Regions from separate parts of the Homo sapiens genome. Here region 2 is linked to region 1. The links come from fine-mapping of genetic effects on gene expression. A gene starts in region 1. The other region holds a variant in brackets. All regions are shown on one strand. Distances are from middle to middle. Region 1 holds the start of ALS2CL (ALS2 C-terminal like). Region 2 has its middle 36 kb from the start of PRSS50.

What was found. PIP is the estimated chance that this variant, and not a neighbour inherited with it, causes the effect. A credible set is the group of variants that fine-mapping cannot tell apart.
Region 2: its variant is the best candidate, but not a certain one, in a credible set for the expression of ALS2CL in whole blood (TOPMed, PIP 0.64).

The regions. Positions count from the first base shown.
Region 1 is chr3:46,690,918-46,696,285 of GRCh38, reverse strand. ALS2CL (ALS2 C-terminal like) reads left to right here and starts at 2,607. Exons shown (of 26, transcript NM_147129.5): 1 at 2,607-2,643. It also overlaps a transcript of TMIE not described here. RefSeq lists enhancers at 881-1,670, 3,252-4,043 and silencers at 2,303-2,382, 2,533-2,782, 2,513-2,807.
Region 2 is chr3:46,751,489-46,756,856 of GRCh38, reverse strand. It overlaps the pseudogene PRSS43P. Among named protein-coding and RNA genes, the nearest start is that of PRSS50, 36 kb to the right of the region's middle. The variant C/T (reference allele first, on the strand shown) is at 3,262.

The sequences.
Region 1 (5,368 bases):
TGTGTTCCCTGGAGTAGTGTGCAGGTCTGTGTCCCTGTGGATGGGCACATGATCTGCACACGCATACCCAGGGCTGCCACTAGAGTTGTGCAACTTGGAGTCCTTACCAGTGGGTTCAATGGTAGATGGGTCCATGTGGCACAGGGACCCACCCATTCCCTGACTGTGGAATTGTATCTGTGTGCAGCGGGTGTGGGAGTGGTGTGGGTGGGTATACACATCTGTGGTGGGATTGGCTAGGGGCCCTTGGCTGTGCTGCAGGGGACTGAAGGCAGGTGGACTCAGCAGAGGCTGTCCTTTGGGCACTACCAGAGGCCTTACCTGGCCCCAAGCCAAGAATGAGCTGTAAGAGAGGCTGGGCAGGTCTTGCCCCATTTAGCAGATAGGAAAACTGGGCTTGCAATGCCCATGAGGTCACCCAGGGAATGGGGGAAGGACTGGTCTGCTGCCCAGAGCTCAGTCAGCCTTTCTATTCCCCTAGATGTGGCTGAACAGGAAGTCTGTGCTCTAGGGAGGAAGCCGTGGGAGCCCTTCCCTTCCTGCTCGAGCCCAGGCAGCACTGCCTTCCCTCAGCTGCACGTGCAGATGATGAAAGTGAGGCCCAGAGACACCTAGCATAAGATCAGATCTGTCCTGCTCGGGGCCTTGCCCCACCTGTCCCTGTTCGTCACAAGTGGTGAGGCCATATGCTCCTCCTGAGGCCATGGCCACTCTCCAGCCCTTGCCTCCCTCCTAAGCCCCAGGGATGCCTGGTGGCCCACACCCATGCTCTAGGGGACCCATAGATCCTCTAAACCGTGCTCATCCCTGAAGGAGCCCCTTGAACCCACCATACCCCTCCTCTCAGAGTCCCACATAACCCCGAGAAGGAGGCGCAGGTAAGATATTTCACCAGCAGGGGCACTACGTTACAGAGAGGCCACACACTGCCTGTGATCACACAGCAAGAGGAAAGCAGCACAAGGCCCCATACCAGCTCTTCCAGAATGTACCGCTACCTCCCACTGCCCCACAGGCACAAAGGATCCCCACAGGGAAGACCTTGGAGGCCTGTTTAGAACCTGAAGCCTCAGTTCATTCCACCTGCTGGGGCGGTGGCTCTGCCAGGCTGTGCTGTAGACTCAGGGAGCCAAGTGCCCCAGCAGACAGTCCCGCAGGCCAACAGGGCTGTGAAGGGGAGTGGGGGCCAAGGTCCGGAGCCTGGGGGTGGAGGGCATGGGGAGGGGAGGCTTTCCCAGAGGGCCAGAGGGACACCTCACCAGAAGCCTCCTTGAGGTAGCCCCCACCCACCAACACAGCAACACCTCTAGCAGGCAGGGACCAGAGGAGCAAGGCCTTTGGGAGTGGAGCCCCTCAGGCAGCAGGGGGTGCAGAAGGGGGCAAGAAAACAAGGCTGGAAAAGGGGAGGCCAGAGCTAGGGCGGGCTTTGGCAATGTGGGGAGGGATGGAGAAGCAGGAAGGGGCGGCTCTGCAGGATTGGGACCCAGGAGGAGAGCAATGTGGGGCAAAAGGGTGAGGTCACTGGGACCTGCAGTCACTCAGACAAGGGTCCCAGGCTGGAAACCCTCCAAGGGGTGATGTGCAGCTTGGCAGACAGTAAACTCCCACCTCGCAACAACCCAAGGGAGCCAGGGGATGAGCTTGGCAGGCCCCAGGCCCCTACTTACCTCCACTGGGGGTCTCTTCAGCCTGGCAGGTTGGGGGATGCCTCCCACCTCCTCAGTAGGGGGCTGAGTAGGGGGCTGGTGGGCCACCCTTTCTGCTCTTCCACGGCCGCCTTGGACCCTGAGCCTCCCCCTCACTGGAACCTGAGTGCCACTGAGAGCAATGGGTGACTAACCTGGTGGCCAGAGGGGGAATCAGGCTGCTGACGGGGGGCTTCTTTGTTACAGGTTTGAACTAAGTTCCCTCCCGCTCCCGGGGGGTCTGTCCCAGATAAGTCTTCAGCCACCCTTTCCAAGGTCTCAGGCCTTCGCACAAAGCACACGCGGCCGGCTTCATGCTCTACTAGGCCTGTTGAGACTCAGGAGTGGGGAGGAAAGGGGACTTCCCCAAGGTCGCACAGGAGGGGCGGCCGGCCGTGGACACCCAGCCCAGGGGGCCGCAGGGCGCCTCAGTATACCCCTCTACAGGCTCCAAGTTCCACGAACCCACACAGCGCTCCGCGTGTGCTGGCTTCTGTGACTCAGGGCAGACCCGGGAGGTCACGGGGCTGCACCACAGGCTCGCAGAGCGACTGACTGGCGGGGCGAGGTGGTGGCACGGCGGCCTCGGAGCCTTGCAGGGGAAGCGGGGCGCGAGAGGCGAGCCTGAGTGTGCGCGTGGGTGCGTAGGGGGCGGAGGGGTCAAGACTCCCACTTTTCCTCCCCGCGCCGGGTCCCAGGGGCCTCCGGATCCCGGGGGACGCCAGAGGGAGGCCTCAGGAGAGGCTTGGGGCGGCGGGACGGATCAATACCGCGCGCCAGCTCCTCGGTGGCCCGCCCGTGGCCCCCGCAACTCCAGAGCAACACCCGGAGGCGGGGCGGGGCGGGGCTGGGCGAAGGGGGCGGGGCTGGCAGGGGGCGGGACTGGCAGGGGGCAGGGTGGGGGTGCGAGCGAGGAGCCGCACAGGCAGTCCCGGCGCGGGGCAACCACAGCGCTCAGGTAAGGGCGCGACGAAGGGCGCGCGTCTGCGGACGGGTGTCTGCGCTCCACGCTTAGCTCGTCCAGGTGGGGGCTCCCGCCTCCTCGGCTGCTGCGGTCCCCGCCCAGCTCCTTGGTCCCGGCGGCAGTCATCCCCCGGCCGTCCGAGTCCCTCGTAAGATACCCCGCTCACAGCGTCGTCCTCCCTGCCTGGCTGCTAGCCTGCTTGGGTTCGGGGCAGCGCCCCGGGCCTGACCTGAGCCGTGGTGGCAGGGCCACGGGGCCCCAGCCAGCAGGAGAGACTGCCAGGAGGAGGTGACGCCGGCTGGTTAGGGCGGAAGGGCCCGACCCGGGATTCCAGGAGGTGGCCTTTTCGCATGGGAGCGGCATGGCAAATGCCTGGCGGCCGGAACAGGAGCTCGGGTCTGGGAAACTCCAGCGACTGAGTGTGTGCCTGGGCAGGGAGAGGAAGGGAAGCTGGGACATATGCGACAGCAGGGAGGGGTGCTTGTCTAGGACAAGAGGCTTGTAGCCATGGTGGGGCCGAGGAAGGGTGCAGCGGGGAGAGGCGAGCATGAGACTGAGGGATCAGGTGTGACAGTTCAGCGCCCCCTCCCTGGGGCAGTGCGTGTCTCTACTCTCCCCCACTGGGCACCAGACAACGAAGGGGCTGCCACGGCAGCCCATGAAAAAGCCTCCACAGCAGGCAGAACTTCCCTGCCTGTTCAGACCAGGAAATACCAGAGTGAGTGAGTGTCACGACAAGGTGTGTCAGGGGCCTAAGGAGCCAGGCCTGGGAGAGGACAGGGAAGGCCCCAGTGACCCTGCCCGGGAGGGACCTAGCGTGGACAGAGGCCAGGAATGCAGAGGAGAGACCAGGTCTGGCTACTGGTTAGAGCGCCACAGGGGCAGCCGCTGACTCACCTGGGCACGCCGTGACTGGCCAGTTCTGTCCTCACCCTGCCCCACCCCACCGCACCCCGTGGTGAGCATCAGGGCTGCCTGAGGACAGCTGTGAGGCAGGGCCCGTCAGGATCTTGCTCTGTGCCTCAGGTGAGTTGCCCACCCTCTCTGAGCCATCTAGCTAGGTGAACCTGGTGGGCTGGAGCCAGAAGTCTGGGTCTGAGCCCTGCACAAGTTCTACACAAGGGTCTCTGGACCCTCCCATTGTTCCTGGGCCTCAGTTTCCCCATCTGTACATTAGGCACAGCCTGTCACTAAGGAACCTTTGAACTGGAGGGAGGGAGAGGGTGAGGAAGCTATGCCCTTGACTGGAAGGGGGAAGGTTAGGGATGGGACAGGGGTTGGGGAGGGGGGTACTCCTGCAGGATCCTCCTCATATTAAGGTTCAGCACCTCCTCCTCCTGCCCTGCAAACGTGCACACTCATGCACATTCACGCTGCCTCACCCCTGCACTTACACTCTCCTCATCACTTCCAGGATGAAGCCCCAGACTCCCTAGCCTGGGAGCTGGGTCCCTCAGGGTCACCTAACCAGAATCCCAGCTTCCACTGCGGCCTTCCCCCAACCCACTGCCTCACCAGCCATGCTTAACTTCTGCCCGTTCCTCTGGGTGGTGTGACTCAGTTTCCCAGGGTTATAGATCCCTTTGGGGCCACAGATGTGGAAGACTCCCAGATTAACAGTTGCCAACTTGAGTCTGGAGGACTCACCCCCGGAGTCATAGGCTGCTTTGTGGGGTGGGGAGTCTAAGGACCAGATCCCCACACCCAGAGAAGCCCCCTTCCACCTGTTTGTCCTTTTGAGGGGAGACTTAAGTAGTTTGAAAAGCTGTGATCCTCTTTGGCTGGGCGCAGTGGCTCACGCCTGTAATCCCAGCACTTTGGGAGGCCAAGATGGGTTGATCACTTGAGGCTAGGAGTTTGAGACCAGCCTCGTCAACATAGTGAGATCCCATCTCTAAAAAAAAAAAAAAAAAAGAATAGAAAGAAATACAAACAAATAAAAAGAAAAAAATGCTGTGATCTGGTTGAACCCCCATTTCGTAGAGGGGTGGCTGAGGTACAGAGAGGAGTAAGGCTGTGGATAAGTTGAAGCATGTCCAGGGCTGAGCAGCCAGGTGAGGGCTGCTCCTGGGGGAGCAGCTGAGACTGGGCAGTGGGGACGAGGGACAGGAAGCCTGAGGAGGAGAGGCTATCTCTAGGGTCAGAGAGCTCCTTGCCAGGGTATGGTGTCGGCTGGGGTCATGGTGCTGGCCCCCCGGAGAGTGTAGGGATGTTGGTGTTCAAGTCTTCCTAGCAGCGAGTTATTTACTGCAGTATCTTTTCAACGTGCACTGATCTGGTTCCTAGTCTGCATCTCCTATCCTAGCCTCACCCTTTCTTCTACCTTCCCAACCAGGCTTGGATATCCTCACCTCTTAGCTTAGACCCCAGCTGACTGCCAGCTGAGAGTGAAAAGGTCACCCCCAAAGCGCCTTTCCATTCCAGCAGTTTCGGGAGATACGGGTGAGAGTTAGGTGGGCCTGGCTGCACCCCTATTCCCTTGGCTGGGCTTTCCTTGTCTGCCTGAGCTGACCTGGAGCCCCCTGTGTCCTGGGGGCCTGGGTCTGCCTCAGGGGCCCACAGAGGGAGAAGAAGCTGCAGCACAGAAGCTGCAGCTGGGTGTCTGGTGGCTTCCCCTTCCTGCCTCTCTCTCTGCAGCCTCACCCTCTCGAAGCAGCAGTAGCAGGAAAGGTGGGGCAGGAATGCCTGGCCTGGGCCTTTGGCCAGAGCTCTGAGGGAC
Region 2 (5,368 bases), 61 kb before region 1:
GGACGGCCTCCGCAGGGGCCGTGGAGGCACACGCCTGAGCCTCCACCTCCTGATCTGGCTTCAGTTCCTTCAACCCCTGCTCAGTGAGGCTGGGAGTGGACAGGGCGGGGCTGGGCTGCACCCACGTTGGGTGTGGGGTGGCAGTGGGGGCGCTGTGGGAACAGGCAGACGCGGAGGAGGCGCCGCCAGGCCAGCTCCTGTTCGCCGCGGGTCCCCGTCTTCACCAGGTGAGCCATACCGACCCGAGGAGGATTCCAGAATGACCCCGGCAAGCCCAGAAGCCCGGACGTCTCCTGTGCACCCGAAATTCCCCAAAATTCCAGAAACTTCTGTAGCTCCAGGGTCTCCAGCGACCGCAGGGCCTCCAGGATCCTGGGTTACTTCAGCATCTACAGTGGGAGAAGCCTTGGAATCCGACGGAATCTCTGACCTTGGAAGGCAGTTTTCTCAGGGTATTGTTTCTGGTGCTAGATCTGTCCTGGCCTGCGGGGTAGGTCAAAGGGGACACAGCCTGGCTCAGGGAGGTTGAGGGTCAGACCCTGACCTAGATGATTTGAGAGAGAGGATAGATAACCCGCCTCCGCCCTGGGCAGCCTGGTGGGGTGGTGGGAAGGTAGTGGCTTCACTTCCAGTCCCCTCTCTTTACTGAGCCCACCAGCCTGTGGCCACCGTGTTTCAAGGATGATTGGAGGATTGCCAGCCCCAAACAAGAAGTGGCCCTGGCAGGTGAGCCTGCAGACCAGCAACATACACCACTGCGGAGGCTCCCTCATCGACAGGCGCTGGGTGCTCACTGCCGCCCACTGTGTCTTTAGGTGAGTGTTTGGGGCTCAGAGCTTGGGCCCTGATCAGGCTGTGGGACCTGGAGCCAGTCTGTCCCCTTCCCTGAGCTTCCTCTTCCTCATCTGTAAAAGGGGGTGACAGCCCCATAGTTTTTATCCAGTCTGGGTGAGACCTGAGTATTTGCATTTCTAACAAGTTTCCGGGTGTTGCCGCCGCCGCCGATCTGGGGACCACTGGCTAAAGTGGTCAGGGGTCCTGAGGGGATGTGGTTGGGAGGGAGGGAGGTGGCTGCTGGCTGGCATAGGAAGATGGGACCAGGCTTGGAAGCACCTGGAAGGTGTGGAAGGGGAGCATAGACGTCCCCCCAGGATCTCTGTGAAGGCCATCTTTTCTCTCAACAGTAATTTGGAATACAAGGTGAAGCTGGGAGACCCTGACTTGCATGCTGGTTCCAAAGAGGCACTGGTGATCCCAGTTTGAGACATCATTTTTCCTAGCAATTTTGATTTTGCCACTTTGACAAGCGACATTGCCCTTGCTCTGCTCGCCTACTCTGTGAATTATTCCTCACATATCCAGCCTGCGTGCCTCCCCGAAAAGCTTTTTGAAGTGGAAGCTGGGACAGAGTGCTGGGTGACTGGATGGGGCCAAGTGTCAGAGAGTGGTGAGACAGGCAGGATGCTGAGGTGGGACAGTCTGGTGGGCTGGGCTTGGCCTGCAAGCTATTGGGAGAGGCAGGGAGGCCATTTTCTAGCAGGTGGGTGAGGGAGGAGGGTGGAGAAGATGCTGCCAGGAAGTAATTTAACAACTATGTTATGAATTTCTGTCGTCATATTGGGACCTTGGGGCTTGGGGGCCAAGTGTAGTGGGTTCTCTTCAGGGTAAATTTCAGCTCAGGGTGATGAGCTGTCTGCCAATAGGAGCCAACCCCCACTAGAAGGACCTGCCTTGATGGGTTGAACTTCTTCACCCTAGCAGTGTAGGCCAAGCCAGAGCAACCCTGCCAGTGAGGCTGTGGGGACTCCTATCCTTAGGGAGAGGCACTACCTGTCTAAGAGTCTGTGATCCTGCTCTAGAAAGTAAAGATGCTTTACTGATGCACAGGACAGCCTGTCATTTCTGCTGATACTCAGAGTGACAGATACTTGGTTGCCATTTTTCAGGCTGACAAGGCCTTGCCTCTCCCTCTCCTGATCTGTTTTTCCTTTTACTGTCTTGATTTTGCTTCTTGTCCTTTCCTTTCTCCATGTCAACATTAAGCTCGAGTTTCCTTCTATGTCAAGTGGTGACATTGTCCACTGCCCTGACTTCCTTTAATTTGGGCAGTTGTGTTAAACACACCAATCAGGACTCAGAGTGGGCACTGGGGGCTCCTGTTCTATCCCTTTGTGAAGATCCACTCTCTTGTAAATTGTGTCTTTGCAGTTTCAGGACCAATGCCACTTGTTCTTCAGGAGACTGAGCTAAACATTATGCGTCATGAGAAATGTTGTGAGATGCTCAAGAACAAGAATATATCCAAGAGTAAAATGGTCACGAGGGGGACCGTCTGTGGCTATAATGACCAAGGGAAGGATGCCTGTCAGGTCAGTTCATGGGCGTCTTGCTGCCTCAGCATTGCAATTGTCTCCTCAAAGCTTCCTCATTCCCAGCCAGTAGGGCCTGGGTTATCTCCTAGCCCCTCTGTTTACCCTTATTCATGGTAATGGGATGTGAGGACAAGCCACCAAGGCTCTCCTGGGCAGCCTACCTGATCCTTCAGGAGAGAGCAACTGACACAGCCTGGAGTGGGAGGAGGGGTGAATCAGGCAGGTCCCACCAACAATACATGCTCCATGTTTTGAGACCCTTCTGTGTGACAGGCAGTGTACTCAGGTTAGCACTTGACTCATTATTGTCTCAGAGTAGGCACGATTTCATTAGGTATATTCCGTTTTTTGGAACACGCCTTTTTAGTAGGTACATGATTTTGGTTTATTGGAAATTGTCAATTCTCAGATCTCATATTGACAGATACCTAAGGCTAGGAGGGTCTTAGGGGTTCCTGGGGAAGCCCCCTGAGTGCCTAGCTCTGTAGCGCATTGCAGTGCAATTAGCCTGCTCTGATGTGGATCCTATTTCTTTCCTACAGTGACTGTCTTTCTTTTTCCAGGGAGATTCTGGGGGGCCCCTGGTCTGTGAATTAAATGGCACATGGGTCCAGGTGGGGATTGTGAGCTGGGGCATTGGCTGCGGTCGCAAAGGATACCCTGGAGTTTACACAGAAGTTAGTTTCTACAAGAAATGGATTATTGATCACCTGAGACAAGCTTCCTGTTTGAATTCAAAGACTTCCTCATCCTAGTCCTGTGTCTGGTGATGCCCCTGGGCATCCTGGTGACCTCGTGATCAGACCCCATTCCACTCTTCTGCTGTTTCTGAGTCTCACACTTAGGTGTCTCCTCTGACCAACTTCCCACTCCTTCTCAATGCCCTTTC[C/T]GCAAATCCCAGTTGGAATCCACGGGCCCTCTGGAGATCCGTACAATAGAGCATGGCAGGGAGACTGGGGCCTGGAAAGTGCCCCTGCCTGGTGCTCTGGTCTAGAGGGCCAGCTGCTCTGCCAGGTGGGCCACGGTGACTCGTCAATATCTGGAGGAACATCTATCAAAGAAGAGACATCATCAACGGTGAAGCAAGCGTTAGATGTGGTTCTGGTTTCAGGGCTCTCACCTGAGACTTTGTGAAACCAGCCAGCTGGGTGATTGCTCACAGAGAGTGAAGGAGGCGTTACCAGGTCCCTGCAGACGTGTGAGGCCTGGGACTTCCACTCTGGCTCAGTTGTCTGGGGCTGGGAGAAGTTCCCCTGCAGCCCAGTGTGGATCCATCTGTGAGTGGACAGCCTCTGCCACACTAGTTCTTTTGGAGCAACCCATTCTTGGCACCCCCTTCCTCAGTGCCCTAGTGGCCACTTTCAGGGACACCACAAGTTGTGTTGAGGCAGTTATGAAGTGTGGAGTTTTCATAAATCAACTGAATAAATGTTTGGAGAGTCTCCTGTTTCTGAAGCTCTGCTCACTGGCGAGTTTGGTTGAATATAACATACTCTATAGAGAACTGGCTTCCCATTTAACTAAGGAAGCTATTTGTGGTTCTTATTAAAATGTAGAAGGACAGGTGAGGCCCTGCTTCCTCAGACATGAGCTCTAGGGATGATTTGAGCCAATGGGTCTTGTTCCCTGTATGCCTGTTATAGCCATCAGCATCTCTGCAGGGAGCTCTGTAGTTGAGCTTAACAGTCTCTACAGTTAGGGATAGGGGATCAAGAGACACTGGAAGTAGGCCCAGGAGTGAAGTTCGGGTGTGAGAAACATTCCTCCTCATCTACTGCTTCTCCTTGCTGCTCCCTCCCACTTGGTTACCAAAGATAGGCGTTCCCACCGGGAGAAGGGCAAGAGAGATTCACTGTAGTATACATAGGTTCTCTCCCCTCATTACAAAGTCTGGTGTCCTGGAGTCTCTCTGTCTAGCTACTGATCAACCCCCTCCCAGCCTCTTGCCCTTTGCCCTTCTAGGGTTGAATGTTTAACCCCCAGGTATGGGTGGGCTTCAGTGGACAGTCTGTATCAGTCCCTTCTGTTGCCTGAGGAAGGCTGAGGCCAAGAGACTGAGAGCTTACATCAAACCCAGTCTCTTAATGAATATAGCACTACCTGCTTTAAGAAACCACTGATTTATTCATAGATTAATAAAACAAATTTAACTTTTTTTCCCTAGAACATCCCATTACAGCGTTCTTGGTCAGCAGGTAGCTTTCTCCATCTCGTGGCTTGCTCTCAGTCCTGTAGTTAATGCTTTACCTGCATCAGAATCCCCTAAGGCTTGTGAAATACAGATTACTGGCCTGCACAGTGGCTTATCCCTATAATCCCAGCTACTTGGGAGACTGAGGCAGGAGGATCCCTTGAGGCCAGGAGCATGTAGCATGTCTCTTAAAAAAAATTAGCTGGGCATGGTGGCCTGTGCCTGTAGTCCCAGCTACTCTGGAGGCTGAGCAGGAAGAAGTCTTGAGCCCAGGAGTTTGAGGCTGCAGAGATATATGATCATGCCACTGCCCTCCAGCCTGGGGGACTGGAGGAAACCTCATCTCTTAAAACAAAATTACAGATTGCTGGTTCCTGGTTCCACCCCTGGAGTTTTCAATCCTGTAGGTCTGGGACGGGGCCTACATTCTCTGTCTTTCAGGTAGAAAGACCTTAAAAGAATGTACGTTTCTAACAAGAATGTACATTTACCTGAAAGACCTAAAGAATGTACATTTCTAAGTTCCTGGCTCATGCTAATACTGCTGGTCTGGAGACCTCACTTTGAGAAGCAATGCTCTGCATTAACAAGAATAGAAAAGGCAACCTCCTGTTGACTGCCTTGGCATGGAAGTGGCACACATCACCTCTATTCATGTGGACCCACTTAGGTGCCAGGCTGGGGAGGGAATGTGGCTCCAAGTCCAGCTGATCACTTCCCAATCTCTGCCATGCCTAGCAGATCCAAAGACAGCATCCTTCTGCAAAAAATCCCTGTGGAAGCCCAAGGCCTGGCACAAGCCACC